Linked DNA regions of Homo sapiens. The protein of the gene in region 1 interacts with the protein of each later gene in a pairwise test. Each region holds a gene or a part of one and is shown on either strand. Other genes may lie near its edges.

The links. The genes of interacting proteins can lie anywhere in the genome.
Region 2: the proteins of FBXO22 (region 1) and CUL1 interact in binary tests that used the Homo sapiens proteins (3 or more experiments, as listed by UniProt).

The regions. Positions count from the first base shown.
Region 1 is NC_000015.10:75,927,767-75,931,420, reverse strand, and holds part of FBXO22 (F-box only protein 22), read right to left. Parts: intron 1,538-3,654; coding exon 1,372-1,537; coding exon of another isoform or gene 1,335-1,371; exon of another isoform or gene 554-1,334; intron 1-553. UniProt on the Homo sapiens protein: Substrate-recognition component of the SCF (SKP1-CUL1-F-box protein)-type E3 ubiquitin ligase complex that is implicated in the control of various cellular processes such as cell cycle control, transcriptional regulation, DNA damage repair, and apoptosis.
Region 2 is NC_000007.14:148,792,762-148,796,415, reverse strand, and holds part of CUL1 (cullin-1), read right to left. Parts: coding exon 3,598-3,654; intron 1-3,597. UniProt on the Homo sapiens protein: Core component of multiple cullin-RING-based SCF (SKP1-CUL1-F-box protein) E3 ubiquitin-protein ligase complexes, which mediate the ubiquitination of proteins involved in cell cycle progression, signal transduction and transcription.

The DNA.
Region 1 (3,654 bases):
TTTGGGGCACTGGGTCAGTTGGGTTATCTGGACTTTATTAAAATGGAGCCCTCATTTACTCAATGGTTTCTCTTAACCACTGACAGAGTATGAAGACCACATTAAAATTAATGGGTCATGTGAAGAGTAATGATTGGGGTGGGGGGTGTTTCTCTTATTAGGTATAAAAAGTAGATGATATACAAATAGCTACACTTACAAGCTAGCACCTCAGATGTTATAAGTCTGAGTGAGGTATCTGCATTTCAAAGGTAAACTGTATGTTGAATCACCATTGCCCTATCCGTACACAATTTAAGTTAATAGCAAAGACACAGGAAAAATTAGGCAAGAGGGGAAATAACTTAGATAGCCACCAAGAATTCAGTGTATGTATGCACAAAATCCAGTGTTTGATATCCTGCCTGGGATTCAACGTACTTGGCCTTCCTCTCTTCCTCCTCCCTGGCAGTCCAGGGACCTCAACTTTAGCTATTTTCCCAGATCTAGCTCATAGAGATAACCAGAAGAGAGACTATAACTAGGATGACTTACATTATTCTTATAGATACTGATCTGCAACAGTCTGTCCCCATGTCACCACTCTAGGATGCAAATATTAAACAGAGTGGGAAACAAATAGTAGTGTTTACAAGCATTGAGGGTGGGGTAGGGTCTGATTTTCCTGCTGGAAACAAATGATATTTATGTCCACCTAATTGTTTCAAACTCAAAATGATATGTATTTTCATTCAAGATGGAAAGGAAGTAATGGCTCCCAAGACAGAAGAGCAAATATTTTTATCTTTGAAAGCAAAAGCCTTAGTAACAAAAAAGATCCACAATTTTTAAGCTTGAAAAAGCCTTTCAAAAGATCTAATACAGAATTTCCAAAAACCAGTACGACTTGCAAGACATTCTGTGGAAAAAAGTTTTGTGACCAAACACATTTGGGAACTGTCACAGGTAATGCTATTCTCCTTCCAGATTTCCACAGCACTGGGCATATTAGAAGCTCTGAGAAGTTTTGCCATAAAGATACACTCTAACCATGTGTTTCCTTTAAAGGAGGAAACTAGAAAGGAGGTGACACATTGAGGTCACACAGAGTACCACATCTGTCAAAGGAAAGATCAACAGGCAATGTCAAATTTTAAGGAGAATGTGACTCAAGGAAGTTCTTGAAGGACAATATATATAAAAATGTAATTATTCAACCGTAAGCAGAATTATGTTCAGTAAGCCCCTTAGCCAATGTCTACTACAAAATGGAATGAACTATTATCTTAATAATTCTTTAAACACGTTTTTTAAATTGTTAACCCCAAAGTGACAAAACCTGAGACCATTTCCCTTCATTCACAGACGAAATCAGAAGCACACAAGACATACTTTTCAGAAGTCAGTGATGACAGGTTGTCCACCTGGCCTCCAGCCAAGATGATATTCATATCACTGAAAGTGCTGACTACTTGCTGCAGATAATTACTGGCTCCCACCTTACAGCAATTATAACCAAAGACAAGGACCACACGAAGTTCAGGGTTATCTAAAAGACCTGCAGAGAAATGAAGAGCAACAGTTAAAGACAGCCTTAAAACAGAAATTATTTTATACATGCTGCAAAATGAAATGTTACTGACTTGCACTCCACCTTAAGGGCAATTTAGTGGCTTAAGCTATCAAATTTTCCATTTTTTATTTTTTATCTTATTTTATATCCTCTTCGATCTCTGTATCAAGTTTTCCATTTTTTACAAACATTATGCAAAATCTTAATTATTTTTTCTATTAAAAAAACTAAATGGCTATTTGTGTTAATAAATAATGCAATCAACACAAATAATGAAGCAGCTATGTACTGAGCAGCAACTCTTGGTAGACCAAGGTGCAAGCTGGCTCTCAGTAGGGAACAAAAAAAAAAAAACACTGGTTTACACAGAGCTGTGCTAGCAGCAGTGAGAATTTACAGATTTTTTATTTTTTAAAGGAGAGAAAAGGCGCTAACCACTTATAGTGTGGTGAACAGTGCCCCCTGCCCATGCCAAAGGTATATCCACATCAAACCTCTGGAACCTATGCATGTAAGCTTATTTGGAAAAAGGATCTTTAAAAAAAATTTTTTTTTTTTTGGTAGAGATGGGGTCTCGCTATGTTAGTAAGGATCTTAAGATTAAATCATCTGGTCTATCCACGTGGGCTCTAAATCCAATGACAGTGTCCTCATAATGAAAGATGTACAAAGGAGAGACAGAGAAGAAAAGGCAGTGTGACCACAGAAGCAGAAACTGGAGCGGTAGGAAGAGAAAAAGAACAGACTCTCCCCTACAGCCTCCCAAGGTAGCACTACCCCTACTGCCATCTCAATTTCAGACTTCTGGCCTCCTGAACTGTGCAGAATAAATTTCTCGTTTTATGTCACCAAATTTGGGGTACTTTGTTACAGCAGCCTAAGAAACTACTACATCACTGAAATACAGGCTTTATTCACCTCCTCCACGGAAGCAGGTGAGAGTAAAGGCGAATTAGCCTTTGAAAGTTCCTTGCAAAGCAGGAAAATGTTCAATTCTGTGACACAGGAACTAAAAGCTGCTACCGCTAGGAGGTGGCAGAGTGTAACAGAGACAGCCTACTTGCTCTGCCCACAGCTCCCAGGTTTCACTGGAGCCTCTGGCAGCTTGTTTATAGACTATCAATTTGATTTTTTTTTTAAGTTCAGGGATACATGTTCAGGTTTGTTCCACAGGCAAACGTGTGTCATGGGGGTTTGTTGTGCAGATTATTTCATCACCCAGGTAATAAGCCCATTCTCCATTAGTTATTTTTCCTGATCCTCTCCTTCCTCACACCCTCCACCCTCTGGTAGGCCCCAGTGTCTGTTGTGCCCCTCTTTGCGTCGATGTATTCTCATCATTTAGCTCCCACTTATAAATGAGAACATGCAGTATTTGGTTTTCTGTTTCTGTGTTAGTTTGCTAATGATAATGGCCTCCAGCTCCATCCATGTCCCTGCAAAGGACGTGATCTCATTCTTTTTTATGGCTGCATATGTACTACATTTTCTTTATCCAGTTTATCACTGATGGGCATTCAGGTTGATTCCATGTCTTTGCTACTGTGAATAGTGCTGCAATGAACATACATGTGCATGTGTCTTTATAACAGAATAATTTATATTCCTTTGAATATATACCCAGTAATAGGACTGCTGGGTCAAATGGTATTTCTGTCTTTAGGTCTTTGAGGAATCACCACACTATCTTCCACAATGGCTGAACTAATTTACACTCCCACCGACAGTGTATAAGTGTTCCTTTTTCTCCACAAACTTGCCAGCATCTGTTATTTTTTGACTTTTTAATAGCCATTCTGCCTAGTATGGGATACGATCTCATTGTGGTTTTGATTTGCATTTCTCTAATGATCAGTGATGTGGAGCTTTTTTTCCTATGATTGTTGGCCGCATGTATGTCTTCTGCCAGCATTACCAAACGGGTGCTTTGGGGACAGGAAAATGAATCTAATACCTAACACACTTGTGTTTCCATTTGATTTGACCACATGACTTCCACCTTGACAAACCTAAGGTGGTTACCAGAAAGGAGAGTTACTTAAGGAAACAAAGGGTATGCAGATGCGTGAATGACCAATTACTAACACCAAATAATGACCTAT
Region 2 (3,654 bases), on another chromosome or scaffold:
GGAGCAATATCCCTTATGAATATAAATGCAAAACTCGAGAAAATACCGGCAAGCTAAACCCAACAACATAGAAAAAGGATTATATACCATGACCAAGTGGGACTCACCCTAAGAACACCAGGGTGGTTCAACATCAGTGCAATACACCATATTAACAGACAAAAAAGCAGTTATTTTGACAGAGTAGAAAAAGCATTTTGACAAAATACAACACTCTTGCATGATACAAAATTCAATAAACTAAGAATAAAAGGGAACCTCTTTAGTCTGATAAAGGACATCTAGTAAAAGCTCACAGCTAACACCATCACTCTTTAACATCACAGTTAAACAGTAAAAGACTGGAAGCTTTCCCAATAAGGGCAGTAACAAGACAAGGATGCTTGTTCTTGCCACAAATTCTAGCCAGAAGAATCAGGCAAAAACAAAGACAAACAAAAAAGAAATAAAAGGCAGCCAAATAAGAAAAGGAAGAAGCAAAACTGCCTGTATTTATAGATGATATGACAGTATATCAAAAAACTCTAAGGAATCCCCCCAAAAACTATTTGAGCTAATAAATTAGAGCTAATAAACATTTAGCAATGTTATAGGAAACAGAATCAAAATACAATAATTAGTTGTACCTTTTTTTTTTTTTTTTTTTGAGACAGAGTCTTGCTCTGTCGCCCAGGCTGGAGTGCAGTGGCGCAATCAGGGCTCACTGCAAGCTGCGCCTCCTGGGTTCACACCATTCTCTCGCCTCAGCCTCCCGAGTAGCTGGGACTACAGGCACCTGCCACCACGCCCGGCTAATTTTGTTTTTGTATTTTTAGTAGAGACTGGGTTTCACCATGTTAGCCAGGATGGTCTCGATCTCCTGACCTCGTGATCCGCCCGCCTCGGGCTCCCAAAGTGCTGGGATTACAGGCGTGAGCCACCACACCCTGCGGTACTTAGTTGTACTTCTATACATTAGCAACGAGCAATCAGAAAGTGGAACAGGCTGGCATGGTGGCTCATGCCTGTGTAATCCCAGCACTTTGGGAGGCCAAGGTGAAAGTGTCACTTGAGCCCAGGAGTTCAAGACCAATCTGGGCAACACAGTGAAACACCATCTCTACAAAAAATACAAAAATTAGCTGAGCATGGTGGCAAGCGCCTGTAGTGCCAGCTACTCAGGAGGCTGAGGAGAGAGGATCATTTGATACCGCAGTGAGCTATGACTGCACCATTGCACTCCAGCCTGAGCAAGAGACCCTGTCTCAAAAAAACAGAAAAAAGTGAAATTAAGAAAACAACTCTGCCAGGCACGGTGGCTCACGCCTATAATCCCAGCACTTTGGGAGGCCGAGGCAGGCAGATCACTTGAGGTCAGGAGTTCAAGACCAGCCTGGTCAACATGGTGAAACCCTGTCTGTACTAAAAATACAAAAAATTAGCCAGGCATGGTGGCGCACGCCTGTAATCCCAGCTACTTGGGAGGCTGAGGTGGGAGAATTGCTGGAACCCAGGAGGCGGAGGTTGCAGTGAGCCAAGATTGCACCACTGCACTCCAGCCTAGGAGACAGAGCAAGACTCCGTCTCAATTAAAAAACTAAAAACCAATTCCATTTATAATAGCATCAAAAAGAATAAACTAGGAATAAATTGAAAGTAGTAGAAGATGCATACACTGAAAACCATGAGACACAGTTGAAAGAAAAGACAACCTAAATAGATGAAAAGACATCCCATGTTCATGGAGTGGGAGACTTAAAATACTGCTGAGATGGCAATACTCCCCAAAGCAATCTATAGATTCAGTGCAATCCTTATCAAAATCTCAACTGCACTTTTTGTAGAAATGGACAAGCTGATCTTGAAATTCATAAGGTAACATAAGGGATCCAGAATAGCCAATATAATCTTGGGGGAAAATAAAACGAAGTTAGGGGTCTCGATTTCAAGATTTACTGCAAAACAACAGTAATCCAGACAGTGTGATACTGGCATAGTAAAGATATACAGATCACTGGAAAATAATTGAGAATCCAGAAATAAACCCATATATACCTATGGCCAACTGACTTTTGACAAGTTTGCCAGCACCAAACAATAGGGAGAGAATAGTCCTTGGCCTCAGACTAGGCAATGATTCCTTAAAAATGACACCAAAACCACAAACAATATAAAGAAAAAATAGATAAAATAGGCTTCATCAAAATTAAAAATGTGTGTATATAAGAAAGTAAGAAGACAACCCACAGAATGGGAAAAAACATTTGTAAATTACATATTTGATAAGGATCTAGTATACAGAATATTAAAAGAATTCTTACGACTCAACAACAAAAAGACAAATAACCCAACTGAAAAATGGGCAAAGAATTTGATCAAACATTTCTCCAAAGAAGATATACAAATGGCAATAAACACAAAAAAGATTCTACACATCATTAGTTGTTAGAGAAATGCAAGTCAAAAACTGCAAGATACTACTTCACATCCACTGGGATGGCTATAATTTTTTTTAAAAATGAAAATAACAAATGTTGGTGAGGATATGGAGAAACTGAAAGTTTCATACACTGTTGGTGAGAATATGAAATGGCACAGCCACTATGGAACAGTCTGGCAGTGCCTCAAAAAATTCAGCTATTACATGACTCAGCAATTCTATACCTAGGTATATACCCAGGAAAATTGAAAACATGTATTCACAGCAGCATTGTTCATAATTGGAAACAACTTAAATGTACATCAACTGATGAACAAATAAAATGTGGTCCATCTATACATTGGATTATTCGACCACAAAAAGAAATGAAGTACCAACACATGCTAGAACATGGGCAAACCTTGCAAACAGTATACACTGAGGGAAAGAAGGCAGGCACAGAAAGTCATGTGTTATATGATTCCATTTATATGAAATGTCTGGAGTAGGCAAATTGATAGCAAATTAATGGTTGTCAGGGGCTGGGAGCTAGCGGGCAGTTACTGCTAATGGGTGCAGGTTTCTTTTTGGGGTGATAAAACACTCTGGAATTGGATAATGGTGGTAGTTCTATAAGCTTGTGAATATACTAAAAACCACTTTGTACACTTTAAAATGACTTTTATGTTATGTCAAATTTTATTATCTAAAATATATCTCAATAAAAAATATGGCTAGCAGGAAAAATAATACTAAAGTGGAAATTTAAGCTTAGTAAGAAAAGCCTAACTGGTTAAATGAATGAGAGAAAAGCATGGATGAGGAGTATGTGTGTGTGTGTTACACGTAGTTTTATTTTTAAGAGACAGGGTCTCTGTCACCCACGCTGGAGTACAGTGGCACGATCATAGCTCACTGCAGCCTCGACCTCCCAGGCTCAAGTGATCCTCCCGCCCCAGCCTCCCAAGAAGCTGGGACTACAGGCATGTGCCACCATGCCTGGCTCAACAATGAGTTTTAACATGAAGCTTTTTGTAGTGCGTATTAAAATCCTGGAATAAGGCCATATTCATATTCATGAGGCAAACATCTATTTCAAATTAAAGATGCCCATATCCTCTTCCTTATCTTTCCTAACAATATCCACGAGAACAAGGAAACGGCAAGCTGATAGAACAACGAGCCTGAGATGAGAATACCATTTTAATTTGAGTGCTGTCGGTCAGCTGCTGCACAGTGTAGGCATCTTCCGTGTT